Linked DNA regions of Homo sapiens: regions 1, 2, 3 and 5 are each linked to region 4. The links come from fine-mapping of genetic effects on gene expression. A gene starts in region 4. Each other region holds a variant in brackets. All regions are shown on one strand. Distances are from middle to middle.

Region 1 (6,274 bases), 35 kb after region 4:
GGCTGATCTTGAACCCCTACCTCAGGTGATCCACCCGTCTTGGCCTCCCAAAGTGCTGGGATTACAGGCGGGAGCCACTGCGCCCGGCCAGTCTTTTAAAAGTGCAGGCCGTGTAGAACATTGTGAGAAGTATAAACTGTAATTACAGAGATTTGCTGTTTGCACCCAGATAGATTTGAAGAAGCAACTTGGAGACAGGTTTAATAGATCAGGGCCATTATTACAGAAATAAATTATTGCATAGCTTAGGACTTCCAAGCTAGGAGTGCAGTGACTGAACTATACCTCAAATATTGACCTTGAGATGTTCAGATTTGTAGAGCATCTTAGAAAATGGTGACATTCCTGGCTGATGGTCAGGATGGTGCATACCAGGCCGGTACCCTGGTGGCTGTCTGGGCATTTCTGGAGCCTTCACCCTGCGAGATCCCCATGGGGCAGGACCCCCTGGCCCAGAAGCTTGGTTTTGCCATCACACCGAGAAGGCACACTTGTCCTGGAGTTAGTTTACATGAATCGAGCTCACCAGAGCCTGACGTGTAACTGAGTATAATAGCCCATTTATGTGCATGATGAAATATAAACACCAAAGAACCGAATGCTCCACGCTCGGACTAGCAGATTCTTATCTGTGGGGGAGGACACAGGAGCGGATGACACAGACCCCTGCTCAGGGACCGGCTAGAGGGCGGAATGCCTGGGCCCCGGCCCTGTCTGCTTCCTGCTTCTTCCCCGAAGTTCATGGCCTGTCCGTCCACATGGGCGGGAGGTGTCCCGCGAGCAGCCCTCACCCTGACCTTGGCTGCTTTCTCCATTCCATTCCCCACCCCTCCTCCCTCCTGACACCCATGGCATTTTTTCAGATAAGTTAATACCTTTGATTAGGTTCCAGCCAAACCTCACCCTTTCTCTTTCCCCATGCCTTTGTGTCTCTCTTCGTCTGATGTCGAGTCTACAACCTAATGCTTTGAAGACAGACTGACTTCCCCGTCCTTGGTCAGGGGGTTGCTGCTGCGTGGGGGGGGCGGTAACCATAATCTTGCCCCCGTGTCTCATACACAAGCTGCAAGCTTAGCTCAGAAGCTGTGCCTGTCTTGGCTGCTTTTTCTTGCTGTCTTCCCTATTTTTGCAGGAGTTTTGCACACGGTCATAAAAGTTCAGGAGAAACATGAAACGTGTTATTCTGTTTCCTGTTTAAGTCGACCTGAGGAAGCTGAAGGGGTCAGGCGCGGTGGCTCACGCCTGTAATCCCAGCTCTTTGGGAGGCCGAGGCGGGCAGATCACGAGCTCAGGAGCTGGAGATTGAAACCATCTTGGCTAACATGGTGAAACCCCGTCTCTACTAAAAATACAAAAAAACAGCCAGACCTGGTGGCGGGCACCTGTGGTCCCAGCTACTCAGGAGGCTGAGGCAGGAGAATCGCCTGAACCCGGGAGGTGGAGGTGGCGGTGAAGCAAGATGGTGCCACTGCACTCCAGCCTGGGTGACAGAGCGAGACTTCGTCTCAAAAAAATAAGAAAGAAAAAGAAAAAAAAGAGAGAGAGAGAGACAGAGAGAGAGAGAGAAAAAAAGAAAGAAAGAAAAGAAAAGAAAACTGAGGGCTTGCCCTAATCTCCTAGACTTCCTTTTCCCTCAGTCCTGATGATGGCAGAGACGACTCCTCAAAGGCTCTTCCCCTTGGCATGGAGTGCTGGAGCCTGCCCTAGGGAGGGAGGACAGGATGGAGCAAGACACTGAACGCAGAATTAGAGCTAGGCAACGAGCGGGTGATTTCACTGTTTCCTGGGTAACAAGCCCCAGGCTCAGCTCGGTCTGGTGTAGCCCCTCAAAGGGGACACTGTCCTTGCCCCCAGTTGATGGAGGAGGAAGGAGCGGAAGGCAGTGTGGGATGGGTTGGGTGTGGGCATTGCCACAGTGTCCCCAGCAGGCCTCCTTCTAGCCTGGGGATCTGGCAGGTGGGTCCCAGTCACCACCAATGCCCCATATACCCAAGGACACTGGTGACCCAGCAGACCTGAGGCCACAGACCAAAGACAGAGTAACAACCCCATTAAAAATGTGCCCCCATGGGCGGGCATAGTGGCTCCTGCCTGTAATCACAGTGCTTTGGGAGACTGAGGCAAGAGGATCCCTTAAGCCCAGGAGTTCAAGACCAGCCCGGGCAACATAGTAAAGTAAGACCTTGTCTCTAAAATAAAATATAAAAAATAGCCAGGTGTGGTGGTGTGTGCCTGTGGTCTCATCTACTTGGGAGGCAGAAGCAGGATGATCACTTGAGTCCAGGAATTTGAGGCTGCAGTGAACTGTGATTGCACGAATGCACTCCAGCCTGGGCAACAGAGCAAGACCCTGTCTCTCAAAAAATTTTTAATTAGCGGGGCATGGTGGTGTGCACCTGTAGACCTGTAGTCCCACCTACTCGGGAGGCTGGGTGGGAGGATTGCTTGAGCCCAGGAGGTCGAGGCTGCAGTGAGCCGAGATGGTGCCACTGCACTCCAGCCTGGGCAACAGAGCCAGAGCCTGTCTCAAAAAAATAAAAAAGTGTCCCCAGACACAGGGGCATGGGTGAGGCCTGTCAGGACTGCTGTGGTAGCTCATGGTGTCCTGTCCCTTCTTCCCACC[A/G]GGGAATGACCGTGGCTGTGGGCACACCCCCTGTCCATCTGGGCCTGCCTGTGGGAGCTGGACACTGCCCTCCCCAGCAGCCAGAAGTCCTGAAGGAACCGTGTGTGACCCTCAAGACCAGACCGGGCCTGCCACACCAACCCTTCAAAGACCGCAGCGGTCCAGGCAATCCAACGTGGGTCCCAAAGCTAGGTGAATAACCACGAGGAGCCCACGGTCAGCCCCTTCCCATCACATACGCAGGGAAATGGGTCACTTTCACTTTCAGAAAACAAAGCCTGGACCGCACTTAACTTGGAGGCAGATAACCTAATCAGAATTCACACACGCCTGGGACTTGGAGCCAAAAGCACCCGTGCTCTTACCTGCCTTTGTCCTATTTCCTGGCGGGAAATACAGAGGGCAGACAGGTCTTGGCCCGCAGCCACAGCCCCTTTACCCCAAGATGTGACTCGGTCAGCCACACGGCCTCACAGCCTCCTCCCAGGCCCTCAGCTGTGGCCACGGCAGCCAGGCAGGCCGACCCAAGGACAAAAGCCACGGGCAGTGTCCTGGGAGAGAACCCGGCCTTGACCACAGGCTGCTGGACACCTCCTGTGTCCCCCCCTTAATCCTCAGAGGCACGGTGCCCAATGCCTGGGCCATATTCCAGATTCCATCCGTTCTTTTTGTTTCATTTACAGACAGTCCCCGACGTCACGATTTTTGGACTTTACCATGGTATTAAAGCAACAGGCAGGCAACAGAAACTGGGCTTTGAGTCCCACACAACCTCCCTGGTTTTCAGCACGGTATTCAATAAATTACATGGATGCCCCACACTTTATTATCAAACAGGCTTCGTGTGAGATGATTTTGCCCACCTGTAGGCTCATGGGAGTGTCCTGAGCACGTTTGAGGGAGGCTGGGCTGAGCCGGGGTGCCTGGCAGGAAATCTGCAGGAAGTGCATTTTGGGTTTTTCAGCTTTTTTTTTTTTTTTTTTTTTTGAGATGAAGTTTCACTCTTGTCGCCCAGGCTGGAGTGCAATGGTGCGATCTCAGCTCACTGCAACCTCCACCTCCTGGGTTCAAGTGATTCTCCTGCCTCAGCCTCTCAGGTAGCTGGGATTACAGACATGCACCACCACCATGCCCGGCTGATTTTGTATTTTTAAAAGAGACGGGGTTTCACCATGTTGGCCAGGCTGGTCTTGAACTCCTGGCCTCAGGTGATCTGCCCCCACTTGGCCTCTGAAAGTGCTGGGAATTACAGGCGTGAGCCACGGCACCAGCCTGCATTTTGGACTTAGGATATTTTCAACTTACGATGGGTTTGCCGGGCTGCATCCCCACCGTAAGCTGAGGAGAACCTGTACTTTCTATTGGTGCCTGCTGATCTACGGAGTTTTTAAAGTACGATTTAAAAAAATAATAATCCTTATCAAGGATAAGTGATTGCGTTACAGGACATTTGAAAAACAGAGAAAAGGATTTAAAAATACCATCGACTTTCTCTTTTTGTGACAAGAAGACTCATTAGCATGTCAGCACACTCTCAGGCACACATTTCCCCGAGTGTTAGGAGTTCTGTTGCACAGTTTGTAACTGTATCTTTTTAAATTGGGCATCTTATTTTTATTGTCAAATTTAGACATTTATAAGGCTGCTCCTTCCTAAAAAAAGAAAATGAGTAACTTATTTACTTGAAGTCAGGATGACTGGGGATAATTTATGTACAAAATTGCATACCTCCAGCCCTGGCAACCGCTGTGCCGCCTTCTGTGCCTATAGCTCTGCCATTTCTAGAATGTCATATAAATGGAATCGCGCAGTCTGTAGCTTTTCTTGTCTGGCTTCTTCCACTTGGCATCATGCTTTTGAGACCCACCCATGTTGCAAGATCAGTAGTCTGTTCCTTTTTATTGTTGAATAGTATTCCCTTGCACGGATACATCAGATGTATTTGTCCATCCACCAACTGATGGACATTTGGCTTTTACCTTTGGAATACCGTGAAGAAAGCTGCTGTGGCTGTCCTGAAAAGATCTTTGCATGGAGACGTGTTTCCGTTTCTCCCGGGTAAATACAGGCGCATCTCGTTTCAGTGTGCCTCGCTTTCTCCTACTGCGTGGAATCGCTTTTGTTTGTTTGTTTGTTTGTTTGTTTGTTTGTTTTTGAGATGAGTTTCACTCTGTCACCCAGGCTGGAGTGCAGTGGGGCGATCTTGGCTCACTGCAACCTCCACCTCCCGGGTTCAAGCAATTCTCCTGCTTCAGCCTCCAGAGTAGCTGGGATTACAGGCACATGCCACCATGCCCTGCTAATTTTTTGTATTTTTTAGTAGAGACGGGGTTTCACTGTGTTAGCCAGGATGATCTCGATCTCCTGACCTCATGATCCACCCGCCTCAGCCTCCCAAAGTGCTGGGATTACAGGAATCGCATTTTTTACAAATTGAAGGTTGACGGCAGCTCCGTGTGGAGCAAGTCCACCGGCACCATCTCTCCAGCGGTGCGTGCTCACTTCCTGCCTCTGCACCACATGTTGGTCGTTCTCATAATATTTCAAACTTTTTCATTGTCATCGTCCGTTATGGTGATCTGTGATGAGTGACCTTTGATGTTAACTATTGTAATTGGTTTTTGGCAAAGCCACGAACTGCCCTTGTTTAAGACAGCAAACTGAATCAAGACATGTCGTGTGTGTACTGACTGCTCGCCGGCTGGCGTTCTTCCATTTCTGTCCCTCTCCTTGGGCCTCCCTATTCTCCAAGACTCAACAGTATTGAAATTAGGCCTACAATGGCCACTAAGTGCTCAAGTGAAAGGAAGAGTCTCATGCCTCTCACTTTATTTTTATTTTATTTATTTATTTTTGAGACACTCTGTCCCCCAGGCTGGAGGGCAGTGGCACGATCTTGGCTCATTGCAACCTCTACCTCCCGGGTTCAAGCGATTCTCCTGCCCCAGCCTCCCGAGTGGCTGAGATTGCAGGTGCCTGCCACCGTGCCCGGCTAATTTTTGTATGTTAGTAGAGACAGGGTTTCACCATGTTGGTCTCGAACTCCTGACGTCAAATGATCTGCCTGCCTCGGCCTCCCAAAGTGCCGGGATTACAAGTGTGAGCCAACGCTCCTGGCCGCCTCTCACTTTAAATCAAAAGTTAGAAATGATTAAGCTTCATGAGGAAGGCATGTCAAAAGCTGAGATAAGCCAAAAGCTAGGCCTCTTGCACCAAAGGGATAGCCAAGTTGTGAACACAAAGGAAAAGTTTTTGAAGAAAATTTAAAGTGCTGCTCTAATGAACACACAAAAGAAAGGGAAGCAGCCTAATTGCGCGTCTGGAGAAAGTTCAGGTGGTATGGACAGAAGATCAAACCTTCCGGCCGGGCGCGGTGGCTCACGCCTGTAATCCCAGCACTTTGGAAGGCCCAGGCAGGCGGATCACGAGGTCAGGAGATCAAGACCATCCTGGCTAACACGGTGAAACCCCGTCTCTACTAAAAATACAAAAAGTTATCCAGGCATGGCGGCAGGTGCTGAGGCAGGAGAATCACTTGAACCCAGGAGGCGGAGGTTGCAGTGAGCCGAGATCGCGCCACTGCACTCCAGCCTGGGCAACAGAGCGAGACTCTGTCTCAAAAAAGAGAATGCACCTGGTGGGCATGCTAGC
Region 2 (6,274 bases), 910 kb after region 4:
AAAATGTGCGGAGGGAGCCATTTGACACCTTTTGTGGTTACTGTTTCCGGGTTTGGATGTCTTTTTTGCTGTGTTGTTGCTGTTTTATCGAGTGTGGTTTTGTGACTTTTAAGAAGAAAAAGAAGGAAGCAGAGCAATCAAATGCTAGGAACTGAGCCACAGCCACCCATGAGCACGGGGTCAGACATGAGGTTTGGGGCTTGCCTGTTTCTGTTTTGTAATCAGAGCTGACACAAAGCATTCGAGGAAGAGACACAAAGAATGCTCTGTAAGCATTTGCACATGATAACCACCTACAACGACCGCCTAAAACTCCACACGGAGAAACCGTTTTCTTTCTCCGCCACATTTACGTGCAAGGACGCAAACACGGCCATGCGCCATAGTCTTTATTCCCATTTCTTCTATCAGAGAAAGCGACTTTTTAATAACTAATGCAGGCTCTCTTTTTCCTTTGTCGAGACAGAGTTGCTTTTAGCCAAAAGGAATTAGGGTTCTTACCTTGTTTATTTCATTTATTTTATATTTTGGGTCTTCACAAGTCTTAGTTTCTTAGCAAGGAACAGAATTAGCCAGATTGACTGGACGGCATGTATGCTTAAGGAAATGCATCTGCGTAACCCAGACAAGTGGCCATCCTCCCGCGGAAAGTCAATTAAATCCTAGTTAGTATTTGCCAAGTGTGGACCTCTCCTAGACGCTGAACGTGCACACCCCAACCCACATGTGCGTGCACACACACAGACACATGCACGCACTCGCACACACGCACACACACGCATGCACGCAAAGGCCCTGAAGTGAATGAAGACCTTTGCTCAGGGAAGAGAGGGCAGCAGCATGTCTAGCGTCTGCATATTTCAAGTGAAAATAAACTTGGTCTTTCTGAAGCTGTCTCATTAGGGAAGGCACTGAAGTTCTCACGAGTTAGTTTAACCCCAGCCAGGCTTGCAGCTCAGCACCCTCCTAGCTCTTCCACCATCAGGAGCCCAGTGGCACCCCCTCTGCTGCCCAGGAAGGTCCCACACTCTCTCGGGGCCCGGCCTGGCCTCTCATGAGGCTGTCTTCCTTCTGTCTCGTAAGCTCCCTCATCTTCCAGCCAGCTGCCTGGTTCCCTTTGGCATTAGAGAGAGAATAAAGGCAGTGTCTCCTCAAGCGCACCTGCCTCCTGATTGTGTTTTCAGTGTTTGAAGCGGCATTCGGTGCCCCCCTGCCCTGCTGCTCAGTGCTGACCTCAGTGCCCCCCATTCCCTGGGGAGGCGTTTCCCAAGGCCCTGGTCCCCATCATACACCTGTCAGCCTCACAGGCCACTCACTCAAGGGTCTCAGAGCCCCCACACTAGTGAACACAGGCGTGGAGAGCGCCTCTCCCAGCTCCGGGGAGGGACCAGCGATGTGTTTTGTAGCAGACACAGGACCCACAACAGCCCGTGCCTCTGGTGCACTGGCCAGACGAGAAGCCCAAAGCCTTCAGCCTTTGAGAAAGAGGTGCCTTCATCTGAAAATAACTACAGCCAACCCTCCATGTCCACAGGTGCTGCATCCGCAGATTCAACCAATTTTGGATAAAAAAACAAATGTAAATAACAAAAATAAATTTAAAATAACAATACAACAAGAAACAATCCAAATTTTAAAAATACGGCATAGCAGCTATTTACACAGCGTTGACACTGTGTCGGGTATGGCGGGCAAGCTAGCGAGGGTTTGAGGTGTGCCGGAGGATGTGTTCTGCTTGTACGCAGATGCCACACCCTTTCGTATTGGGGACTGAGCCGCGCAGGTTTTGCTATCCGAGGGGTCCTAGAACCCATACCCCATTGATACCAAGAGACAACCCTGTTTCATCGCTGGGCTTAACTGGGTGTTTTCTGTTGTTGAAGATCCCAGAAGAGCACGACCTGGAGAGTCAGATCCGCAAGGAGCGGGAGTGGCGGTTCCTGCGAAACAGCCGTGTCAGGAGGCAGGCCCAGCAAGTCATTCAGAAGGGTAAGGGCACCCGCACAGCCAGCCAGGGGCTCATTCCGGGGGTGGGGCCTGGGGCGAGGGTCCCCTGTGAGCAGGCCCCCCGCGGCCCACGCACAACCTTCTCCAGCCATCCACTGTCCCACGACAGACCCGCCCCGCACCCCACCTCCCTTGCAGATAAGCACATCAAGGCTGGTGGAGATGAAGCTGCTGCTCCTCAAGGTTCTGCAGCCCAGAGTGGGGAGGGGAGGGGCCGGGTGGGAACCCAGCCACCGCCTGGGAAGAGGGCTCTCCCGGGACCCTGCCTCTTCCTCTGCAAGGGCAGCCCTCAGCCCTCGGGATTATCAGCGCAGGTGGAACTCATGGAGGCGGAACTTTGCATGTTGACATTTCCGGAAGGGAAGGCCTCTGAGAGCCCACATCTCCCCACCCGGACAGGTGTCGTTGCGCCAGGCCCTACACATGGCGCATCCTTCCCTGGAAACAGGAAGTGAAAATGCCAGGCCCTGCTTTCCTCAGCTGGCCTCCACTTGTCCCTGAAATGGTGGCCAGCTCTGTCACCCCACATCTCAGTCATGATTTTCCTAAACCTTCTCCCAGATTTGCCACTAGATGCCAAATCGCTCCCTTCACCTACCTTGTTGTTTGCTCTCCCAGCTGCACCCGGGGTGGAGGGGCAGGGAGCAGCCCTGGAGGGGGCGGTGTCTGTTGCCGCAGACAGCGGAGGGAGCTCCTTGCGGAAGGGATCCAGGCTGCAGGCGGCCCCGGTCACAGAGACTGTGTGGGGAGCAGGGAGGCCCTGAGAGTCAACACAGCAATGAGGGTGTCAGGCAGCCCCATCCCAGGGACCCTGGCCTCTCCCCAGGATCCAGGAGAGTACAGGGGCCCAGGCCCAGCCCTACAGCCCCACTGAGGGCACGGAGCAGCAGTGGTGTCTCCGCACTCCTCCCCCTGCCCTCGCGGCCACAGGCTCCCACCACTGAGCCAGCTCTGGCTGGGGGACCTCAAGCTGCCCCCAACCAAATCAGCACCATCAAAAGTCAAGGACTCTGACCCCAGTCTGCAGGTTTATTGTTTTGACCTTGCATCTTTGTCCTGTAAAATTCTGGAGATTATTATGGGTTACTTTCTGAAGTTGAGGTTGATGACCCGTAGGACAGATGTCCTCCCTCCTGCCAAAGCCGAGGGCCCTGCCCGCAGGCAGCACAGGCGCCATGAGCGCGTCCTCAGCGAGCGTGCCTAGGCCCGGCTCACACCTCTGCTCTGCTGATCACCGAAAACACTGCTGACTTCTGGTACCAGCAACGTTTCTGAAGCGCATTCCCACGCAGCTCTCTCTGTGAAAGACTGCGGTTCATCTCGCATTAACGCAGACGGTGGCTGTTGTGCTGAAAGCTAATTGTGGTTGTTTGTAGCCCTCTGTGCATCTGAAGAGCTGGCGGCAGACCAGGTTTAAAGCATCGCATGTTGCAATCCGGTGCGTGCTGCCCCGGCGGCCGCCGCTGAACCTTGCAGCCAGGGTGGCTTTCTCCAGCAGAGAGAACAGACCCTGCTGGATGAGCGTCTCCAGGTGGCGGCGACAGGAGGCTGTTTTCCTGGAGGTTAGCGATTCTCTAGGACCCCAGCCTGCTAGCTGGGATGGCCAGCACACGGGGGCTGCCTGCTGCCTGAGACAGGCTTGGGAGCTGAGTCTGCCTCACACAGTTCAACATCTGAAGATGAGCTGGCCCCTGATGGCCAAGGTGATGCTCTGGCCTGGAGCCTGTGGTCAGAATTGAGCAGGGTGCGAAACAGAGCC[G/A]GCATTCGAGACCCAAAACCGAGATTTCTAGACCAAAAAAAAGAATATATTTGTAAACCAGAGTTTGTCCAGACACACAAAGGAGGAGCTGCTGAGCCGCTGGAGACACCACCAAATGAGGCCTCAAGACACAGGGGATGGTGCCAGCAGGCGTGGTGCCAGCAGGCGTAGTGCCGGGAGTCACTGAGGAGTGAGGCCGCGCCCTCCTCCCAGTCCTCTGTCCTCGGAATTCGGATTCGGTGCAGGCGTTTATTTTCATTTAAGGAGCCAACTGTGTGCTGGGAAAGATGTGAGCATTGAGAAAAAGGAGGAATTGATGCCTGTAGATGGAAGAGAACCAGAGAAGTCGGCGTCGCCCAGGAGACGGGGTTGGGAAAGCCCTGTGTCACGCAGGCCCCTGCCCGGCTCTTCAGCCTTCTCCTGGGCAACATTCACGACCTTGGCTGTCACGCACTGATTTTCAAACGTACCAAATGCGTGGGCTGGGTGGGGTTTCCCTTTGTCCTTCAGTGCTTAGAATTATGCCCAAACTCCGTCCAGAACTCCCTGCAGCTGGGAATGGAGGCACCACTAGGGTAACACGGTGCTGCCGCCGCACCAAAGCCTTCGGGCCTGCCTGCCTCTGTGAGTGCAGCCTCTCCTTGTATAACGTGGCATTCATTTCCTTTCCGTGGTTCTGGGTGTTTGCTGGGGACTGACATTGTTGGAAACAGTAGCTCACCCGAGGTGCCGAGCACACACCAGGCATCAGTGAGGCTTCAGCCCGCAGACTCCGTGGCCCTGGTGCCACCTGGACAGTGCCAGGCACAAGCGGAGGGGCTGTCAGCTGCTGGAGGTGGGCGGCTTTGGCTGTGCTTAAGCCCAGTTCAGAGCAGCCTGCAGCAGAGTGCCCAAGTCGCGCGGCTTTGACCTTGCACCCCGACGGTAGGCTCCTTCTGTTGTAGGACTTTTTAATTCAGCTAAAAACAGGGTCTTTGTCACATGACCATGAAAAATTAGGCTCCCAGACACTTTGAAGGGTGGGAAGGGCAGGGTTTATTGGGTGAGAAGGAAAAAACGGGAAACAGGGCCTCCCCGCAAAGCCGGAGTCCTGCTGGTGCACTTCCCGCCTCGCAGATTGGATCCCAGGTTCTACCCCAGATCGGGAGGCTGGGCTCCTCCTGCTGCAAAGGGCGCCAACTTCTGTGGCTCCCCCCGTTGTCCCAGTGTGCAGGCTGGTGGGAGTTTCTCTGGGGACCCCTTTATACTTGGCTATCTCACTTCCTGCCAGAGCACAAGCCCACCACTCCCCACAGGGAAGACTGGAGGCGGGCAACGGTCCTCTGAGCCAGACCAGAAGTTCAGGTGAGGACACGGTTAGTAAGAGCCAGTCAGGTGAGGACACGGTTAGTAAGAGCCAGTCAGGTGAGGACACGGTTAGTAAGAGCCAGTCAGGTGAGGACACGGTTAGTAAGAGCCAGGCGGTGTCTCTCTGCACCACCTGGAGCTATGTCTCTGGCTGAGGAAGGCTTGGGGGTCCCCAAGACACCCTCCTGGTTGCCCAGAGGCCACACAGGTGACCGCAGCCAAGGCCAGGAGGCAGCCCAGCTTGTGTCCTTGGTGCCACAACAGACAATGAGGCTTATGCACCCACAGATCCCCAGCTGCCCTTTCAGTCACCAGGATGTGTTGGAATCCATCTTGCGCCCTCTGCATTTTTAGCTTCCTTTTATGGTTCCTTCTAGAAAAAAGCCTTTTAGAGTCACAAGGGACTTACTTCCTAGTGCTCGTGTTTGGGGGCCTGGTGGTTAAGTCCACGTTCCCCTCTTCTGTTAAATCTGTGATTCTGTAATAGATCCCTCAGTCAAGGAAGTTCATAGTTACCATTCTAGACTGAAAGACCCCCGGACTTTGGCTGCAATGTGGATCCTGGCGACCACACCCATGTCTCCTCCTTAAGTCTGTTACGAATCAGAGCCCTACCGAGCTTATTCTGAAACTTTAGCACTTTCTTCATATAATCTGACCCAGATAAATTTGTACAAACCTGACCACTGCTGACAAGTATTGGCTGAATGCTTCCACATGTCCAGCTCGGCATCAGGAGCTTTGGGGGTTTTGAGCAAAGGCATTAACCCTGCGGCCAGGGCCCCTGGGCCCTCATTCTGGGTACTCAGTGGCTGCCGTCACCCCAAGAGCCCAGATGTGCCTGCTCCTCAGCAGGTGGTCAGGCCCCTCCCTTCAGTCCCTGCTTTTCTTCTGCTTCCTTTGTGCCTCTCCAAGTCCCCAAGGTATTGACGTCGGCCATGATAAGATACGTCGTGAATATTTATTGTAAATTAAGACTGGCTTGCCGGGCATGGTGGCTCACTTCTGTAATCCCAGCACTTTGAGAAGCCAAGGTGGATGGATCACTTGAGGTCAGGAGTTTGAGACCAGCCTGGCCAACATGGTGAAACCCCGTCTCTACTAAAAATACAAAAATTAGCTGGGCGTGGTGGCGGATGCCTGTAATCCCAGCGACTCAGG
Region 3 (6,274 bases), 85 kb before region 4:
GCCAACATGGTGAAACCCTGTCTCTACTAAAAATACAAAACTTAGCCGGGCATGGTGGGGTGCACGCCTGTAATCTCAGCTACTTGGGAGGCTGAGACTGGAGAATCGCTTGAACCCGGAAAGCGGAAGTTGCAGTGAGCCGAGATCACACCACTGCACTCCAGTCTGGATGACAGAGCGAGACTCCGTCTCAAAAAAAAAAAAAAAAGTAATGGCCTGCTATTAGCTGCTGTCTAGGCCCAGAATCTTGAGAGCAGGGGTTAAGGGGGAACATGGCTCTGATTTTCTGAAGGGTGGACTGCCTGTGACAAGGGGTGGGCTGGCAGGGACATTTCTGTGGGCTGCTAATTTTGTGCAATTATTTGCTAGGCTGTAGCAGAATGTCACAGATGCCAGCCTCTGGCTCTGTGTGGCTGTATGACTACGGGACCACCCACGGGGAGATGGAGGGGGTGCATGGGGAAGCTGGTCCATGGTTAGTGTGAGCCAAGCAAGGACAGGCTTGGTGGTGCCCAGGGGATAGAGGGGCTCTGTGGGCAGGGACCTGGGTGGCTTCCCTGGGATGCCATGGCTCTGAGATGCCAACTGACGTAGCTCATGAGTAGCGTATCCTTCACTTCTGGGGCTTTGATGTATGAACCTGGAAGAGAGCCCCTGCAGAAACTCGCTGGGGGCTCATCCACTTCCCAGAGCGGTCAGGTGAGGCTTGCAGACTTGCAGATGGGAAAGGAGCTGGCTGGGGAGGGAGTACCTCATGCTCTCCACATTGGGATTGTCTTCCCCCCGGAAGAACTGGTTGTTCCGATCTGTCCGGACCACGTCTTTGTCCACAGTGAACTGCACATTACGCCAGAACGCTCTGTGCTCCTCGGGAGTCATGGAGAGCCTGTGTGGAGCCGAGCACCCAGCCGGGGTCAGCGGGTGGCACCCAGAGGCATCGTGTGGCGCACACACTGCAGGAAGCCACCCTTCCTCCCAACCCCCGTTCCCTGGACGGGAGCTGGGCGGCTGCTGCCGGCTGCAGACCCTCCCCGGATGCGGCGGATGGGTGGCGTGTATCCAAGGCTCTCCTTGATATTAACTCAGCCTCACAGTCTCCAGCGTCCCAGGAAGGAGAGCAAGTTGCAGCCCAGTGGGTAATGAGGCCTTGGCCCTGGCCCAGCGTTCTGGAGGGGAGCTGAGCACAGCCCAGGGGCTTCACCCAGTCCCAGCCTCCTGGAGAGAGAGCTGAGCCCAGTCCCGGGTTAGCAGATCCCAAGTGGGACACAGTCTCCGGATGCCTTCACCCCTCCAGGCCCTGCTCCCAGCCCCAGCCTTCAGCTGTGGGACGTCAGCGCCTAGTTAAGTCTGTTGAACGAGAATTCTAAAACCTTGACATGTGAGCTAACGAGCCCCGCAGCTCCGAGGCCCGAGTGCTTGGTTTAATGACTGCACTTATCCCACCCTATCACTCACGTTCCTGGGAGACCCATTTTTGAAAGAAACTATGGGTCACGAAACATATTATCAATGCTGAATTGCACCTCAAATTGCCTTTTCAAATGACATTTTCCTCCGCGGCTCGGCGGGGTGGGCCGGGCTGGCCCCGGCGGTTACCTTTTCTGCTGGATCTCAGAGTACTCCTTTCGCTTCTGCAGCCGCAGCGCCTCCCGCTCCTCCGACGTGGACTCGTGGCTGTAATAGCGCAGCAGGAAGGGCCAGACCTCCCCGCGGATTGACACATCAATACCGCCAAAGAAAATGGCCTGGAGGAAGCGGCAAAAGTTGGGGAGGGGATAAAATGGGGCAGCTCAAAGAACCCCCAAATCCCCAGAGATGTGTGTTTTGGTGGTTTTTGGTGCGCCTTGATTCAGATCTCTGCAATTTGCACATATTTACAAGGGGAAAGCAGTGGCCTTCAATTCCCATACAGGACACAAACCCGGCTCATTTCAATGTCAATGCCCCCCCTGGGGTGGCGCTCAGATTAACGTGTCGTTCTCACGTCATGGCCTAATCCCTGGTTTTGGAAATGCTGCATTTCACTGCAAACCCTTCTATGCAGGCTGACACGGTATCCCCCCAAACCCTCGAGGGAGGTGTTGTGTTTTGTTTTTTTTTTTCAACGCAGCAGCTTTGATTGCTTTATCGGTGTGTTCACAGAGAGCCTCACACAAGAAAACGGGGCCCTCACGAGGAGGTGGCCCGTGGGTGCGGGCGGGCGGCCAGGCCCCGGCCCTCCTTCCCTCTCGCTCGTTCCCGGTTCCCGGCCGGCTCTCCGCGGGGCCAGCTGGGCGGACCCGGACCTCACCTTCCGCAGCTTGTACTCCTCCTCCACCTGGCCCAGCTCATTCAGGTGGTTGAGCCAGGCGGAGACGCCGAGCCTCTTGTACATGCTCTCCTCGGGGTGCGTCTCGGAGGACGGCAGCTTGGGGCGGCGGATGGAGAACTGCATGCATGTCTTATCGGGGGCGACCTGCTGGACGGGAGGAAAACTGGGCAAAGGTCAGGATCTCAGCCGCGCGGCTTCAGAGGCCAGCAGTGCTTTTCCCAGGAATAAAAGCCTCTCTCTCTTCTGAAAGGAGGGCAAGGGCCGTCCCCTGCATACAAACCCCTAAATGGCGAGTGTAATTAGGCGCAATTAAAATGAAAATACCTTCATCTTAAAATCGGTTTCCCTCTGCGGCTCTCTCCTCCCCGGCCCACTGTGCCGCCGCCCCCCACTCTCTCCAACCCCAGCCGCAAAAACGGAATGAATGCCTCGTTCGGCCTAACTTCCCTCTGCCGGGAGGGCCTGCAATGAATTACATGTGATTGGCCACATACAAAGGGATCGCTGTTCTGCGAGCAGGGAGCCAGCCTGTCAGATTGCCTCCG[C/T]GAGCAGTCACGAATCCAGGGCAAAACTGCAGCTGACATTTAATTCAAAAATCAAAGGTTGTTCAATGTAGGGGGAAAAAAAGCCATGCTACTGTAATAAGGGAAGCCAGCAGGAGGCTCTGCGGGAAGGAAGGGAATTTTAAAATCGGCCCCATTTCTAATAAGCACATACAGTACCTTAAACAGATAATTAAAGAGCTCTTATTACATTTGTACGTAGATTGAGCAAAATATGGCAGGAAGTCTTGTCAAAACATGATTTTTCAAGTGCAGGGCACTGACTTTACCGAAAGCCCTGGGCAAAGGTTTCAAACCCAAAGTTGCTGCTCTGACGGCCAAAAACTACCGTGGGTCACACCCCGTAAGCCCCCGGGGCCCGGGGACCCCAGACACAGGACCCAGGAGGGAGATGGGGCCCGTGGGGGGTGGGGAGTGTCAACCGCTGGGCATTCTGGGGCCGTCTGCTGGGCTACCTGGTCTTTGAGCTGCATCTCGGTGCAGTATTTCCACTGCTGGAACACGTCAGACAGCTTGTCCAGGCCGCCGTGGTGGAAGTGGAAAACCTTGTACTGGCTCTCTCGGCTGGCAACGACCAGCTGGCCGCTGGTGCAGGCCTCGTCGCTGAAGGGCCATTGGAAGGGGGAGAGGGAAGCCCGATGAATATGTAAACACGGGGGTTTTATTTCCAAGTATAATCAGAGGCCACTGTCGCCAACCTCAGAAGCAGGAAACAGTGAGTCCCAGTGGAGTTGGCTGCTAGCGGGAGGGGACAGAACTACACCGAACAAAAACCACCACCCCCTTTGCCGAAGATGGCAAAACTGCTCCTTCCTGGGGGGCCCTGGAGCTCCTCTCTGGAGACCTGCCAGAGTGGCCTTCTCCCCACCACCCCCTGCCCGGCAACATGGTCCCTGCAGTCCGGGAGACCTGGGTCCCAACGCTGAGTGCCCTGGAATCCAGTTCTGAGCCCTGGCAGGCCATGTGCTAAGAGAACCTCCTGGGAACAGACCTCCTTCGTTGCGTGTGGGTGGAACTCTGGGAGAACCCTCCAGGGAAACTCAGTAAACATCCGTCAGTGCTGTCAGCCCAGCCCCGGCTGCCCTTAGATGAAAGGCTGGAATGTGGCTCTGGGTCTGGGAACCCCCCCAGCTTCTGGACACGCCGGCTTCTTCTAAGCCCGGGCCTCTCATTGGTGATGTCTGCGGCTGGGCAGCCCTGACTATAAGGAGGAGGATCTGGTGTGGGGAATGACTGCAGGAAACTAGGCATCGCCCACCCATCACGAAAGGAAGGGAGCCTCCATCCGGAAAGCTGCGGCCCGTCCCGCACAGGTGGCCGAGCTCCAGAGCATCCCCCGGCGATCAGAGCCGCCGGCAGCTGCTACCCTCTGCCCTGGTTTGGTTTCTTCTCCCAAGCCAGAGTTGCAAGCAACCGCTGGCTACCATCACGCTGAAGGTAGGGGAGTGAGTTCGGTAGCTCACCCAGCCTGAGAACTGTCAGGGAGCTGCAGTGGGGAATCACTGCCCACAAGATCAGCGAGGGAGGAAAGCAGACGCTTGGGAAGACTCCATCCAGGGCCCTGTGTCCCCAAGCCGTGCACTGCACCGGCTGCAAAGCCCAGGCTGCCAGGGAAAACACACACAGGCCAACTCCCAGGAGGCGCCCAGAGATGCTTCCTACCTGAAGAAAAGGCGGAGGGAGCGCATGTGGCCCAGGTCCACGCGGAACACGCCGCAAATCTGCTCCAGGGCGCACACCCGCTGCGGCTCGTCCCAGCGTGGGGTCTGCAGGAGGCCGTTGCTGTCCGGGAACCGCAGGCCGGCGTCGGAGCTGGACGGGGGGCTGGTGGAACAGGTTATGTGATGATCGCCACACTTCTCCCTGCCCACACTACCCAGAGGGGGACGGGGGTCATGGGGGAGTCATTTAAACCTACGCACCAAGCTTAAACACACATACAGGCACGGCTGAATATGCCCTGTAAACACCTGTGAATAAATGAATGTATGAACCCCACTGCACAGTTCTACTTCCACTTGGATGGGAAAGCATTTTCATGATCAAATTCCATTCCACTTCAATAGAGGCAGTAAGTCATCATCGTCCTGACAGCCAAGGTCACACTGACTGGGGTTCCTCGCTGTGTGACCTTGGCCAAGCCACCAAGCCTCTCTCAGCCTTCGTTTTCCCATGGATAAAGAAGGCAGGAGAATAACAAGGCTGGGTTTCCCTACAGCGTGGGGCTGGGCTTTACTAAAACTGGTTGTTTTGGGATGATTTTAGATAGCATGGGGCTTCCGCGTGGTTTAAACCAGCTCACTGTATTCCTGAAAAGTACTGGTTCAGTTTATGCTTTTGGTTAGGAAACATTTGGGTTCTCAGTACTATTAATAACATCATCAGCATTTATTAAAACACTGACTATGGGCCTGGCCCTGAGCTAATGCTTCTCAGGTGCTTTTATTGCAATTAATCTTCACAAAAATCCTCTGAAATGAATAGTGGTATTACCCCATTGTAAAGAAGAGGCAACTGGGGCCCAGAGAGGTTAAGTAATTTGCCCAAGGTCACACAGCTGGCAAGTGGTAGAGCTGAGATTAGAACCCAAGCTTTGTGGCCCATGTTCTCACCAGCATACTGTGCAGCTGTCTGCAGTTCAGCAGTACAACCCCATTTATTCTGTTATTTTTTATGAGTTTGTTACATTCCAAATTGCAAAATATCTTATTATATGGATTCAGCCACCTCACAGGTTAAATCTTGTCTCTTGAGATTTTTTCTTTTTTTCTTTTTTCTTTTTTTTTTCTTTTTTTGAGACGGAGTCTCGCTCTGTCACCCAGGCTGGAGTGCAGTGTGCGATCTCGGCTCACTGCCACTTCTGCCTTCCGGGTTCAAGCGATTCTCCTGCCTCAGCCTCCTGAGTAGCTGAGATTACAGACGTCCACCACCATGACCAGCTAATTCTATATATTTAGTAGAGACGAGGTTTCACCATGTTGACCAGGCTAGTCTTGACCTCCTGACCTCAGGTGATCCACCCGCCTCAGCCTCCAAAAGTGTTGGGATTACAGGCGTGAGCCATCGCGCCTGACACTCTCTTGAGATTTAATGTCTAGCAAATGTCTGCTAAAATAAAACCGGAGTACAGGCAAGACTCAGCTCTGGACCCCAACTGCAGCACCCCACAGAGACTCAGCCGCATTCACCGCACCTGCCTTCCCGTTTGAGCTCAGAACATAAACTATTAGAGGCAATCAATCCAGAGGCACTTCCTCCTCCAAGAAGCACCAGGTCTAAGTAAATAAAGCTCCTTTGGAGGGTTCCAGCACAATCCCTCCCCACTGGGAACTTCACACAGAGAAACCTGACTGGCCTTTCTAGAGCCCTCTACTGCGTCAGGCATAGCCCTGGGCCTGGT
Region 4 (6,274 bases):
AAGAGAATTTAGGCCTGTGACAAAAATCAGGGTCCCTCAGCCAGGGAAGAAGGGGAGCTAAAATTTTCACAGGAGGTGGTGTTGCCAGGCAACCTGATCAGCTCTGCTCCCCATAGCATCCTGCAGGGACCCAGCCCCCGGTCAAGTTGTAAAGATAAGGGTACACATACGCACAAATAGTAAATCCTACATCTGCCTGGAATCACTTTCCACCTCATGGACCACACAAAGGGGAGTGAGGAGTCAAAGCACAAAAACAAAATGTTTTGTGTCAATCTAGTTAAATGTGGAAAATCCAAATAACGGTCATTAATAACAGTGTTAAAATGTTACCATTTGACATTACTTACCACATCCTAAATGGTAACTCAGGATGTGTCAGGAATTCAATGCTTTTCATAATCCTTGCACAAAGTCTCTGAAGTAGGTAGTATAGATGGGGAAATTAAGGCACTGGAGAATTAACTAAGTGCCAGAGGAGTTGGGGTTTTTGTTGTTGTTTTGTTGTTGTTGTTGTTTGGGTTTTTTAGGTTTTTTTTTTAAGCAGAGTCTCACTCTGTCACCCAGGCTAGAATGCAGAGGCTGGTCATGGCTCACTGCAGCCCTGACCTCCCGGGCTCAAGCTATCCTCCCACCTCAGCCACCCAAATAGCTGGGACCATAGGTGCCCACCAGCATGTCCAGCTAATTTGTTCATTTTTTGTAGCGATAGGGTCTCTCTAGGTTGCCTAAGGTGGTCTTGAACTTCTGGGCTCAAGTGATTCTCCCAAAATACAGGATTATAGGTGTGAGCTACTATGCCCAGTCCAGGATTTGTATTTGAAGCCAGCAGTCCATCTTTCTACGCCATGTTCTTAACCACTGCACCTTATTACCCAAAACTGTGGACAGAGACCAGTGCAATTGTAGGTAGGTTCTGCAAACTCAATGGCTTTATCCTGAAGCCTGGGGGATGCTTTCCATACTGAAGTGAACTGAGATTAGCAGCTAGTGGTGACATGGGATTAGTCCCACCTCCTTGCACTGTTATGAACCACTTGGAAGAATGTTTGTATATGAATGGTGGGCACCCTCTGTAAGACAGAGGGCAAAGTTGTACAACGGTTTTCTGGAGCTGGGACGTCCTGGGCCTAAGGCCTAATTCTGTCACTCCTAACTGCATGAGCTTGGGAAGTTACTTCTCTAAGCGTCAGTGTTCCCATCTGTAAATGGGCATAACTGCAGTCCTGACTTCATGAGCTTGTTTTGTGGGTTAAGTGAATTCATGCATGATAATTAGGAACTACTAACGCAATCACCAAAATTGCTAGAGGATTAAATAATTCCACAGATAAAAACTTTTTTTTTCCTTTTTTTTTTTTTTTTTGAGACATAGAATGTTGCTCTATCACCCGGGCTGGGGTGCAGTTGCACATCTTGGCTCACTGCAACCTTCGCCTCCCGAGCTCAAGCGATTCCCCTGTCTCAGCCTCCTGAGTACTGGGATTACAGGCTCACGCCACCACACCGGGCTAATTTTTGTATTTTTAGTAGATATGGGGGGTTTCACCATATTGGCCAGGCTGGTCTCGAACTCCTGACCTCAGGTGATCCGCTCGCCTCGTCCTCCCAAAGTGCTGGGATTACAGCCGTGAGCCACGGCGCCCAGCCATAAAAACTTTCGCCATAAAAACTTTCGTTAGCCATAGTCTCACCATAAACATGCCACTTACAAAAAAATATGCGCACAATAACCACGCTCAGGATGCAAACAACATCCATTAATGAACTTTGTAGTTAATACCAAAAGTTACTCCTCACTTTATTCTTTATTTACAAAAGCTTTCATGGTTCTTAAAAGTGTTTAGTATTCACCAATTTTACTGTTAGCGTTTCTAATGAGGATTTTCTAAAACTGAGGCATGGATTTGAAAAAGTGTTCTGATCAATCAGTAACAGATTTGGAATGGAATCTCCAGCCCCCAGTCTTTGCGCCCACCCTCTGGCAATATGCCGCCTCACGTGAGCATCTTTAAGACGGAGTTCCCTTTTTATTCCAGATAAAAGAATTAGGAGCCTTCTGGTAGAAAAGAAAGCAGATCTTCAGGATCAAGTCGCAGAGGCTGGCCAATCAGCCCAGCTTCTCATTTGAACTTGACCCAGACAGTAAAACAAACTTTACCATAAGGCGAGACTAACTTTTGTTATGTCTTTTCTATTCATTTCCTATTTCTGAATCAAATCTGAACTACTTTGTGGCCAATATACGACACCAGCTTCCGAGTGTGGGAATCACAGGATTTCAGGATTCAGCGGCTTCCGGCAGGATCCCCTAGGTTATGTTTAGCAATCTTCAGTTGCCTTTCCTTTTTTTCTTTCCTTCCTTTCGTTCTTTCTTTCTTTTTCTTTTTTTTTTTTTCCCAAAGGAAAGAACAAGGGAGCCCAGGCGGAACGGAAGTGAGTATCCCGACACGCGGATCTTAAACAGCCCAGACCACCAAGCCCGACAGGCCGGGAAAGCTGAGCGCGCGCTGCTGGGGGGACGCACACTTTGGAGGCTGTGTGGGCGCGCGCCGGCACCCCACAAGTTCTCATCCGTCTGCTCCGCCGATTCAGCCAGACAAAGACCGCAAGTTCCCCGGTCCACCGCTCCAGACAGGCGGGGACCAGTCTCCCCGAATTAGGCCCATTCCGGGCCCGGGCGCCCTCACTCGCCGCGGGGAAAAGTCCCCAGGTGCCCCTCCGTGATCCAGGTCCTCCCACAACGCTCCCGCTCCTGCTGGCGCCCCGCACCCCGAGGACGGCGGCCGGACCCCGGCCCCTCCCCGGTCCCGCGGCTGCAGGCCCACGCGCCCCACGCGCCCCGCGCGCCCCCGCCCCAGCTCCGCCGAGGGGGCGCTGCTCGCTGCGCGGTGGACCCCTCGGACCCCGCCCCCGCGGCCCCGTCCGGGCCCCGATACCCACCCGGGTCCCGCTGCGGGGGCCGGATTCGCGCCGGCTCCGAGAGCCGCCACCGTCGCCTCCGCCGCTGCCGCCGCCAGTGAGGCGCGGCGGGGCGGGGACGCGCGGGGAGGCCCGGCCCCCGGCCCGCCCCCGGGCCCGCCCCCGGCCCGGCCCCTGCCTGCCCCCGCCGGTCTCCCCGCCCACCTTCTGGCCCAGCCCTGGGCCCAAGCCTCTAGTTCCCTGCTGGCCCTCCCTCAGGCCTCGCCGCGTCCCGGCCTCGGGGACTGTGCCCCGTCCCGAGCCTGGCGTCCCCAAAGGAAAGGCAGGGCTCCTCGGACGCTCCGCGTGCGCGCTGGCCCTCCGCTGCCGCCCTCTGCAGGGAGATTTCTCCTATTTCGGACTAGGAAGGGAAGATACGCTCCGGAAGACCCCCCGGGCGTCCATGCAAGGAGTCTCCGTAGGACCCCTGGAGAAGGGCACCGGAGCCCCCTAGGGCAGGAGATGGAAAAGCGCTCGCCATGCGCGGGGTCCCCGGCCCCCGGTGCCCCCAGCCCGCCTGCCATTCCCGGGCGCTTAGCAGTCCGGGGTCCCCAGGTGCCCGGCAGGTCCCTTCGGGACCTCGAGCCGCCCGCTGGGCACACGCTGACGCCGCTGTCGCTTTACAGAAATTGAGCGCAGCCGAGGCGGGACCCGGGCGCAGAGAGCGATAAAGGAAAAGCATGGTCGTGCTCTAATCATTACAGTCTAAGGGACGACACGTCGAGACGGCGCGCGCCTCTGCGTGCGTGGAGATGGCACAAAGGCCGCGCCGCCCCCGGCGGCCCCCGCCCTCGCAGCGCGCGTGGTCCCGGCCCGGCCGGATGTTGACAGCGTCGCCTAGCAACGGGAAATGGCGGAACCGGGCGGCGCGGCGGGCCGGTAAGCCGGGCCGAGGGGCAGCGGGTCTTGGAGTCGCCAGGCCGCGCTCTCCGTTCACCGCTCCAGGTGGCCCCCGCGTCGGCTCCTGCCTCGCCCCTTCGCCTCCACTCCCCCTTCCTCTCGCCTGTGTCCCTTCTCTCGCCATTTTGCTGGCCTTTCCCGTCCACTGCGTTCAGCCCCTCACCCCCCCGCCAACCCTTCTCACTTCTCCCCTCCTGTCCCTTTGTCCTCTCTCGGCCTCCCTCTTTCCCCTACTCCAAGCGCGCGACTCCCTCTAAAACCCGGGACCGCTCACTCTGCAGTCACCATGGCAACCACTCTGCGTGGCGGTCCCTGCGCGCAGTCCTCCTAAGAGTAGAGGGCTCTGCAGGGCGCGGGGCTGTTGGATACCGCCCCTGACCTTGCTCCGGGGCCACTCGCTGTGGCCGGAGACCAGCCCGGCCCCGCGCCTCCCTCCTGCAAGGACAGATCCCCTCTCGCAGGCTTGGGGGTGACCCGCGATGGGAGGGGTCCCTGCGGTTAGGCGGCCCGCGATAGTCCGCGGTCACCGTCCTGGGGCCTGGGTGGAAGCACTGAGCGCGCACAGGGAGGGCGGCTGAGTGAAGATCCCTGCCACCGGGCCTCTGCTCGCTTAGGCTCTGTTTAAAAGGATAGAAACGATTGGAAAGAGTTTGGCCTTTTTACCTTAGACACATCGGTATTGTTTCATTTTTTTAAAGGTGGGTCTGTATGTATTGACATGGAAAGACTAAAGGTATTATTAATAAAACGATAGGCATAAATGTAAAAGGGTAGGTATACTATGATCTCTAATTCAGGGTGTGTGTGTGTGTTTAAAACATAGAAAAATGTTGAAAGAATGTGGTCCTAAATGTTATCAATGATTATCTTGGGAAGGAAAGGGAAGATCACAGGGAACTGTCACTGTCTGTCTCTTTGAACATATCTATATTCCTTTGACAGATAAAAATAGCTTGAATCTTTAATTTTTTAAAAAAGATATACATATATATATATATATATATATATTCCTGTGCTACGTAAATCGTGGAGAAACTCAGAGTCCCCAGAACACTTACTCTGATCGCGCTACTTTCTCTACGTTGTATTTCTTTTCCCCAGTTTTGTCCCAGACACAAGTTATATTTGAGGTGACTTTTCTGGGGTGATCTAATCCTGCTGTTCCTTCGATGTTTTAATAATTATATTTTTCATTCATTCATGGAGCTTTGCTTTTGTGGCATCTCCGCCACCTGACAGGCATGATATAGTGCTATGGTTCCTGACAAACAGGACAAAGACGTGACAACAGCCTGGGGGTGGCAGAGAAGTAACAAGTAAATAAACAGATGTGCAGAATTCAGGAGGGGATAAGGACCAAGAAAAAGAAAGCTGTTGCTTGAAACTGTTCAATTGTTTCTCTAAAACCAGGTCCCATCCGGAAGATGGATCGGCTTCTGAGGGAGAGAAGGAAGGGAATAATGAAAGCCACATGGTAAAATTCCCTATGGGCAGTTATTCCGGGCTTATATTTACTAGGAATTAAAGAGAATCAGAGTACGGGCACTGTGGCTCACGCCTGTAATCCCAACACTTTGGGAGGCCAAGGCAGGTGGATCACATGAGGTTAGGAGTTTGAGACAAGCCTGGCCAACATGGTAAAACCCCATCTCTACTAAAAATATAAAAATTAGCCGGGCGTGGTGGTGCGCACATGTAGTCCCAGCTACTCGGGAGGCTGAGGCAGGACAGTGGCTTGAACTCGGGAGACAGAGGTTGCAGTGAGCCAAGATCACACCATTGCACTCCAGCCTGGGTGACCAGTGAAACTCTATCTCAAAAATAAATAAATAGGCCGGGCACGGTGACTCACGCCTGTAATTCCAGCACTTTGGGAGGCCGAGGCAGGCAGATCACGAGGTCAAAAGATCGAGACTATCCTGGCCAACATGGTGAAACCCTGTCTCTACTAAAAATACAAAAATTTGCCAGGCATGGTGGTTCACGCCTGTAGTCCCAGCTACTCGGGAGGCTGAGGCAGGAGAATGGCTTGAACCTGGGAGATGGAGGTTGCAGTGAGCCGAGATTGTGCCACTGCACTCAGCCTGGCGACAGAGCGAGACTCCATCTCAAAAAATAGATAAATAAAATTAAATTAAAAATAAATAAATAAAGAGAATTAGGACTTGGTCAAGTATATTGTATGATGACATTATCTTGCACCAGAACAAACTCAATTCAGTTGAAGAGAGACTCATTTTCTTCCTACCCCATTCTACAGTGTCAGTGATTAGTCAGGGATGCAAAGGATGTCCAACTTTGGGTTGCCCTGAGTTTTTCGGAACTCATTTCCTGTAACAAAGGATGCAAAAATGATTATGAAAAGCAGAGAGGGCCAGGCATGGTGGCTCACGCCTGTGGTCCCGGCACTTTG
Region 5 (6,274 bases), 100 kb before region 4:
GCACTTCGGTTCGGTTGGTGAGGACTCTGTCCCACTCCGCCAGCAGCTCCCAGCCTGCTGGGCCCTGGCCCTGGTGGTCACCGCTGTGGCTTCCTGCACCCCCGCCCCGTAGAGAGCTGCAGGGAGCCCGGGGTGCTGCTGCTCTTCTGAGGCGGGAGGGTCTCCTGCCTTTGCTCAGGTTTTATAGAGAGAGGGTGGGCTGGACAGGGACAGACAGGGGCTGGCGGCTGAGGGTGAGGGTGGAGGGAGTGGTGCGGTGTCCCGGCTACAGGCGGGCTCTAGGGCTGGGCTGGGTGAGGGCTTGGGCAGGGTGGGTGGAAGGCTCAGAGGGGCCTGGGGCCAGGGCCCGGTGGGTCCTTCGCTGCCCTGGTTGGGGTGGGGTGGGTCACTGCAGGGAATTACAGCAAGTGGGAGGCTCCAGGAGGTGGGGAGTTTCCTCCGACTTTTGGGACTCTGAGGCTCGGCCTCCTCTTGCACGTTCTCCAGCCTCCTCGTCACCGCCACCAGGTTACTACCTTTACCCGACGCACACCTGACGTGGCTGGATGACTGGGCCCGGGGGCTGCTGCCCCTTCTCGCACCCCGCCCCTCCCCTCCCCTCCCCTCTCCTCTCCCCTCCCCTCCCCTCCCCTCCCCTCTCCTCTCCTCCCCTCCCCTCTCCTCTCCTCCCCTCCCCTCCTCTCCCCTCCTCTCCCCTCCTCTCTTCTCCTCTCCTCTCCTTCTGTGCCCGTCTCCAGCCCTCTCCCGTTCTGCGCGCCCCTCCTTCCCCGACTTGGGCAGAACCGCACGCAGCGGCTCGGAGGCCAGGCGTGTGCCGGGCGGGATCGCGCGCCCGCTGGGGTGAAATCAAAAGAAAAGCAACAAAGCCCCTTCCGCGGAAAATGGGGTGGATGTGAGCGGCGCCGGCCTCTTCCTGCTGGAATGGGAATTAGCGGCGAGGATTATTTTGAGGACGCGAGGTCCCTTTGTGCCCAAATGCGCCTCCTCCTGCCCGGCTCGGTGGGGTTCGCGGCGCACGGACCCCGCCCCCAAGGCCTCAGGTGGGCCGGGGGCTCCGGGAGGCCTCCGCCGCCCTCCGTCCCAGGAGAGCAGTTCCCGGTGAGAAGCCCGGGCTCTGCAGACACCCCACAGCAGTTCTGCGTCTCGGAAAACGCGGCGCCTTCATCAGGACCGCACGAAGGAGGGGGTGGGGAGGCGGGTCCAGCCTCGCGAGGAGCCGGCCGGGGTCTGGGGGGCCGTGGCAGAGGGGAGTCCCGCTTTCTGTCTAAGCCTCCCTGTGCCAAGTAGGCCCGAACCCCACCTTTGGAACCTGCTTTCTAGAAAGGACAGCACCCCAGGGGGCCCGTGCCGTGGGCATGGCAGCCTCTCAGGTCGTGGGGAGGGGAGGGGACACTTTGGGGAAGCCACAGGGGGTCTCTAGGTATCTCTGGGATGCTTTCTGGTGGGGTGTTTCCTCTAATCAAAACCATCGTGGGCCAGATTCTGGGGAGCTGGCAGCCCCCCCACACAAACAGACCTTGGTGTCCTGGATCAGCTTCAGGTACCTGATGGGGTGAGAGGATCGGTGCAGAGGCTCAGAGGCCAGGCCAGTTTGGTGACCCATCAGCTGAATTTCAGACTCCGGGTCCCCAGCCCCTTCAGAGACACTGGGACCGCTTTGGGGCTGCCCTGAAGGCTCCAGAGGGTGGAGGGGAAGGGCATGGTGCTTTTGCTAACACTCTCACGTCCCCTGGGAGCAGGTGGGTGGCCACCCTGAGGCCACTGCACGGGGGAAGGGACAGAGAGAGGTGGGGTGGGGGAGGCGGAGGGGAAGCTGCAACCAGCTCCCGTGGGGCAGGGGGTCGGCGGGGGTTTGTCCCTGCTGTGGGCACCTGGAGCGACACCTGTGGGGGCAGCTCCTCATCTGACCTGCACTAACACTAATCTTTAGTCAGCTCCAGGGACTCACCCACCCTGAAAGACCCCATCCTCAACCCTATCAATAGCTCTAGTTGCATTTCCGGCAAAATCTGCAAGAGCTCGGTTCTTTGTCTAACCCTCCAGGGAAACAAACAGTTCACCTCCCCTGGAATGTCCTCATCCCCTTCCCGGGGTCCCAACACCCTCCCCAGCCCCCACCCTACTCCATCTCAGGCTGGCTGCCTCTGACCCTAAAAGTCCAATTCTGTTTGTCTGCCGGGTTGGGGCACTCATCTGTGGCCCAGCCAGGCAGAAAGACAGAGAACCGGGGGAAACTCCCGTCTACATGAATCATGGGGCAGAACCTGGGGATTTATCCAACAACCAAGAGGGCGCCTGGACTTTGAAGAAAGGCAGCACTTGCCCAGAGGAGACTGTTTCAGGAGCTAGACCCCACCCTGCTCTTGGGGTGGGTGGTGGCATTTCCCAGGGGGCACCTGGGCTCTTGCCTAGTGGTCTGGGGTCCCTGGTACTTTATTTCTAAAGTTGTCCACATCAGCAGGAGGTGAGTGGAATAGACAGTGGAGGCCAGGTACCTGGAAACTGCTCCAGGGGCTGTGGTGGGAGGGTGACCCAGGTGCCACCCACCTGAGATGTGGTCATGGTTGGTTTTGTCTGAGCTGGTTGTTTGCTTGCAGAGAGGGAACCCAAAGGTCACACCAGAAAGCAGGCTTCCAGTGCAGTGAAGGCGAGGGCTGGAAAGCCGCACCCACCCCCGCACCCACCCCTGCACTTGTGTAGTCCTCACGTGTCCTCTACATCCTGGGCCAGAGGGAGAGGCCCCTTCAGCAGCGGCTCTCCCAACAAAGAGGAAGGCCCCCACCAAGAGCACGCACTCAGAACCCCAGAGTTCTAGGAGGCAGAATGGATGGCACCAAGAGGTCAGCGGTCTAGAGTGGGTCTCCCAGAGCCCGCCCCGTGGCAGCACCTCATGTGACCACTGGCGCCTTTGCCCAGGTTCTCCACACTGGAAAAGTGGAGAATGGCTAGATGGTGCCCCCTCCA[A/T]TAATCCACAAACCTGGGTGACACTTATTATCCTTCAGTCTTTATTTTAAATAAGGCCCCTGTCCTTTACCCTCCCAAAGTACTTTTAGACATTTTCCTTCTGCCCAGAATCCTCTGCCCGGTCCCCTGTAGCTAGTGTCCAGACACTGGTCACAGACCTCCACTGAGCCCAGTTAGAGCGCTGACCTCCCATCTCAGGACTTCTTGGCCCTTGCCCATTGCCATACTCTACTGTCAGATTTTAAAACTGCTAGACCATGTGCCAATTCACATTGACTTGTAGCCACTAGGACCCTGTGTCTTTTTCTATTGTGCTTGTTCATGGCCAGGAATCAACGAACTTTGGACAGACAATCAGTAGACTTTGGGTGTGGCCTTGGTGAAGGCTTCCCACTTTGGTGACTTGCATGTGCCCCTCTTTGTTGAGGGGGTTTTGAAGCAGCTTCTGCGTCATTGGGAGCTGGCTGCTGCGCCCAGCCTGAGGCCCTGGACCCCTTTTGCACCATCCTAATTTCAACATCCAGATGTCAATTCAGAAAATTATTATATCATTCTAATGACTCAAAACATAAAATCCCCTCTTTTGTCTCATGTTGAAGAGCTGATGACATCGGACCTATCAGGTCAGACTTATTTTCCTAGTCAGAGACTGAATGGCATATTTTCAAAGCACTTCGTCTAAATTGCATGGCACACACCCCAGGAGCCCAAAGATCTGGTTGTTCTCTTGAGATGCAGAGAGGAGGCCCACAGGTGGCGGAGGGGTGAAGGAGGAGGAGCCACCACTTCCGAAGCATCAGAATGTCAAAATCTAAGTTTTCCACGAGGTCAGCAGCAGGTGTCTCCTGGTCTGGAGAGGGCATGGAAGTGGCCACAGGTCTGGACTTCTCTGGGTGGATGTGAGGGAGGGTGATTGAACTGGAGGAGGGGGCTGGCTTGAGACCTTCCTGTTCTATGTTGGGGGGGATACTGAGGGTCCGTCTCACTGGGACGAAGAGGGGGCACAGATGCAGGTATGCCCAGGTACCTGAGTCCCAGCCAAAGCGGCAAAGCCAGACCTCCCGGGATTCCTTGAGTTTGGACAAAGGGTGTCCCGACGACGATAAAGAGCCAGGAGCAGAGAGCCCTGCATCTTGCCTGGGGCCCCTTGTATCTCTGGCTCATGGCCTGTCCTGGGCACGGGGAGGAAGGGAGACACCCGTAATAATAACAGAGACCGCACTGGACTATGGGGGATCACAATGGGTTTCAGTTTGATTGAGAGAAAATAAGGTAAGGGACACGTGCTCGCCTGAGTCTCTGGAGTAAGAGTCACGCCTTGGAGAAGGAGGGCAGCCAAAGGCCACGCAGAAATTGGGGGTTCAAGGTTTGCCCAGCCGGCCCCAAAGGTGTGGGGGTCCACATGGCCTCACCCAGGGGCCAGTGGGGTGGCTTTGCTCATTTGAGGGTGTGCAGGGTACATATGTGTCTGCCCCGGGAATCCAAGTAGCCCCAGTGCGCTCCTGCCTTGCTTCCCTAGAGCGAGCCCACGGTACCATAGTCCTCGTGGGATGAATGCATGAATGATGTGGAAGGAGCCAGAACAGGGCTGCAGACAGGATGCTCTCTCATAGAAGGACCCCAGAGAACTTCCCCTCTGGAGCCTGTGCGGCTGGTTGAGTGTAAACGCTGAGTCATGCTCGCTGCCCAGCTGTGTGGCAAGGGCACTCCCTAGGCACTGAGCAGCCACCGCCAGCCCTGAGGGCTGCGGGACAACAGAGAGCCGGGCCTGCCCGAGGCACGGCCCCTGAAAAGTGTGGCCCGCCAGGTGGCACCTATGTTCTCTTGCCCGGCGTGGGTGACTACACAGTTGTCATTTACGGGGGAAGTAGGGCACAGCAGAGGTGAACATGAGGATGATGCTGCGTCTGGGCTGTATCCAGGGAACCAGCTGCCGGACAAATTGGAAGGGACCTTCTTGGCAGGACAGGTCCAGTTGGTGGCCTGAGGTGGGGTTGTGGTGGGCCTTGTCCCCCTGCAGGGCTGACCCGTGCAGGTGGGATCATCCTTCCTGAGGAGCTGCCCTGCCCAGTCCCGTTGCCTTGGAGGCGGTGACATCAGGGGCCCCTGAGCCACCAGGTTCCTCCATCTTCATGTGGCCACCACGGCTGTTGCAGAGTCCACGGTAAGAGCCAGGACGTGGCTTCCAGGCAGGATGGGGAAGCACCTCCCACTCCCACATGGACAAAGATTTCTTTAAACGGAGCCACCAGCCATGCCTGGTAGTGGGTGCCCTCCCTAGGCAGGCAGTGCTGGCTCTGCTCTTTCCTGGGGGAAGCCCACTGCTCCTCCTGGGGCCTAGTCCGTGGGACCTGCCCAGCCAGCCTTGGGAGGGGCACCCCTGGGCATGTGGAGAGGAGGTGATGAGGCGCTCAGATGTCGAGGCCAAGGCCAGGTAGGTGGCAGGTGAGACAGGCCCTTCAGACATGAGACCCGAGTGATGTAGATAAGAGGTATGTTCCCCTCCAGCCCCCGCCCCCAGGCAAAAGGGGAAAAGACACACAGAGAACAACAGAAAACAGTTGGAAACCCCAAAGGGCGCTTGATGAAGAGCTGGAGCTCCCCGCCCCCCGTGCTCCGGGAGGACCAGGAGACCTGCTCCATGGGCCAAACCGCCTTTGCCCATCCCTCCCCTGACCCCTGCTGCACGGTTCCAAGGGCTTGGTAGGGCAGCCTGAATTTTCCCTAACTCCCACTCCTAGGAAGGTCAAATTCACCTTGTTTGCCTCCTTAAAAATTCACAAATGCAGGACTGAGGCTTTTCCTGAAACCAGAGCCCCGGCAGCCAAGGCTCAATAAAATACTGTTTGTGTTTCCAGGCACTGGGGTGGGAGCGAGGCTCCCAGTTGCTCAGAGTTAACCGGCCCTTTCCCGAGTGAGACCCCGCGAGCACTCGTCAATTCTCCCATCACCCTCCATCGCCGCCTGCTGGGGGGGCCTGAGGTCCGGAGCTGCTCTTCCTCCTGGCAGCCCAGCCTGCAGGCCTAGTGCTGTCCAACCACAGCCCAGAGGGCAAGGCCTCCCAAAGTGGGCGCTTGCTGAGCCCCTGGCCAGCCTCCCAGGACCCTCAGTCCCCACAGCCCCCATCCAGCTCTCTTTTACACCTTCCCCTCCCCCATCTCAGAACATGGGAGAAGCCGGGCACACTGGCGTCTGCAGGCTGCCCTTGGGCTGCCACGGGGCCCTGTTTGCCCAGCACAGAGCCTGCCGTGCTTTGACCCAGCAAGTCCCACCGCACCTTCCAGAGGCACTGTACAGCGTGCATCTGTTG

Which allele goes with the higher level. Positions count from the first base shown, and alleles are read on the strand shown. Sizes are in standard deviations (SD) of each study's normalised expression. Not every link is listed here.
For the expression in tibial nerve of the gene that starts at base 3,021 in region 4, A is the high allele of the variant in region 5 and T is the other (small effect, 0.19 SD a copy in GTEx).

Evidence for each region.
Region 1: its variant is fine-mapped to the expression of TBC1D16 in lung (TOPMed, PIP above 0.99).
Region 2: its variant is fine-mapped to the expression of TBC1D16 in pancreas (GTEx, PIP 0.96).
Region 3: its variant is fine-mapped to the expression of TBC1D16 in tibial nerve (GTEx, PIP above 0.99).
Region 5: its variant is fine-mapped to the expression of TBC1D16 in tibial nerve (GTEx, PIP above 0.99). The same link has a PIP of 0.9 or more in cerebellum.

The regions. Positions count from the first base shown.
Region 1 is chr17:80,068,244-80,074,517 of GRCh38, forward strand. All of the region lies in intron 10 of CCDC40 (coiled-coil domain 40 molecular ruler complex subunit), which reads left to right. LOC124904074 (a long non-coding RNA gene) reads right to left here and starts at 3,293. Exons shown (of 2, transcript XR_007065931.1): 1 at 2,989-3,293. The variant A/G (reference allele first, on the strand shown) is at 2,624.
Region 2 is chr17:80,938,613-80,944,886 of GRCh38, forward strand. It overlaps RPTOR (regulatory associated protein of MTOR complex 1), which reads left to right. Exons shown (of 34, transcript NM_020761.3): 25 at 1,884-1,989. Among named protein-coding and RNA genes, the nearest start is that of CHMP6, 50 kb to the right of the region's middle. The variant G/A (reference allele first, on the strand shown) is at 3,767.
Region 3 is chr17:79,948,121-79,954,394 of GRCh38, forward strand. TBC1D16 (TBC1 domain family member 16) reads right to left here. Exons shown (of 12, transcript NM_019020.4): 4 at 4,537-4,698; 5 at 3,330-3,477; 6 at 2,291-2,458; 7 at 1,597-1,745; 8 at 752-886. Among named protein-coding and RNA genes, the nearest start is that of LINC01979, 25 kb to the left of the region's middle. RefSeq lists enhancers at 448-1,031, 1,032-1,615, 1,616-2,199, 2,784-3,367, 3,368-3,951 and 1 more. The variant C/T (reference allele first, on the strand shown) is at 2,857.
Region 4 is chr17:80,032,852-80,039,125 of GRCh38, forward strand. TBC1D16 (TBC1 domain family member 16) reads right to left here and starts at 3,021. Exons shown (of 12, transcript NM_019020.4): 1 at 2,944-3,021. It overlaps CCDC40 (coiled-coil domain 40 molecular ruler complex subunit), which reads left to right and starts at 3,791. Exons shown (of 20, transcript NM_017950.4): 1 at 3,791-3,840; 2 at 5,272-5,335. The coding sequence starts at 3,812. RefSeq lists a silencer at 3,020-3,089 and enhancers at 3,280-3,399, 4,299-4,593.
Region 5 is chr17:79,929,361-79,935,634 of GRCh38, forward strand. It overlaps TBC1D16 (TBC1 domain family member 16), which reads right to left. Exons shown (of 12, transcript NM_019020.4): 12 at 2,983-6,274. Among named protein-coding and RNA genes, the nearest start is that of LINC01979, 5.8 kb to the left of the region's middle. RefSeq lists an enhancer at 2,152-2,371. The variant A/T (reference allele first, on the strand shown) is at 2,965.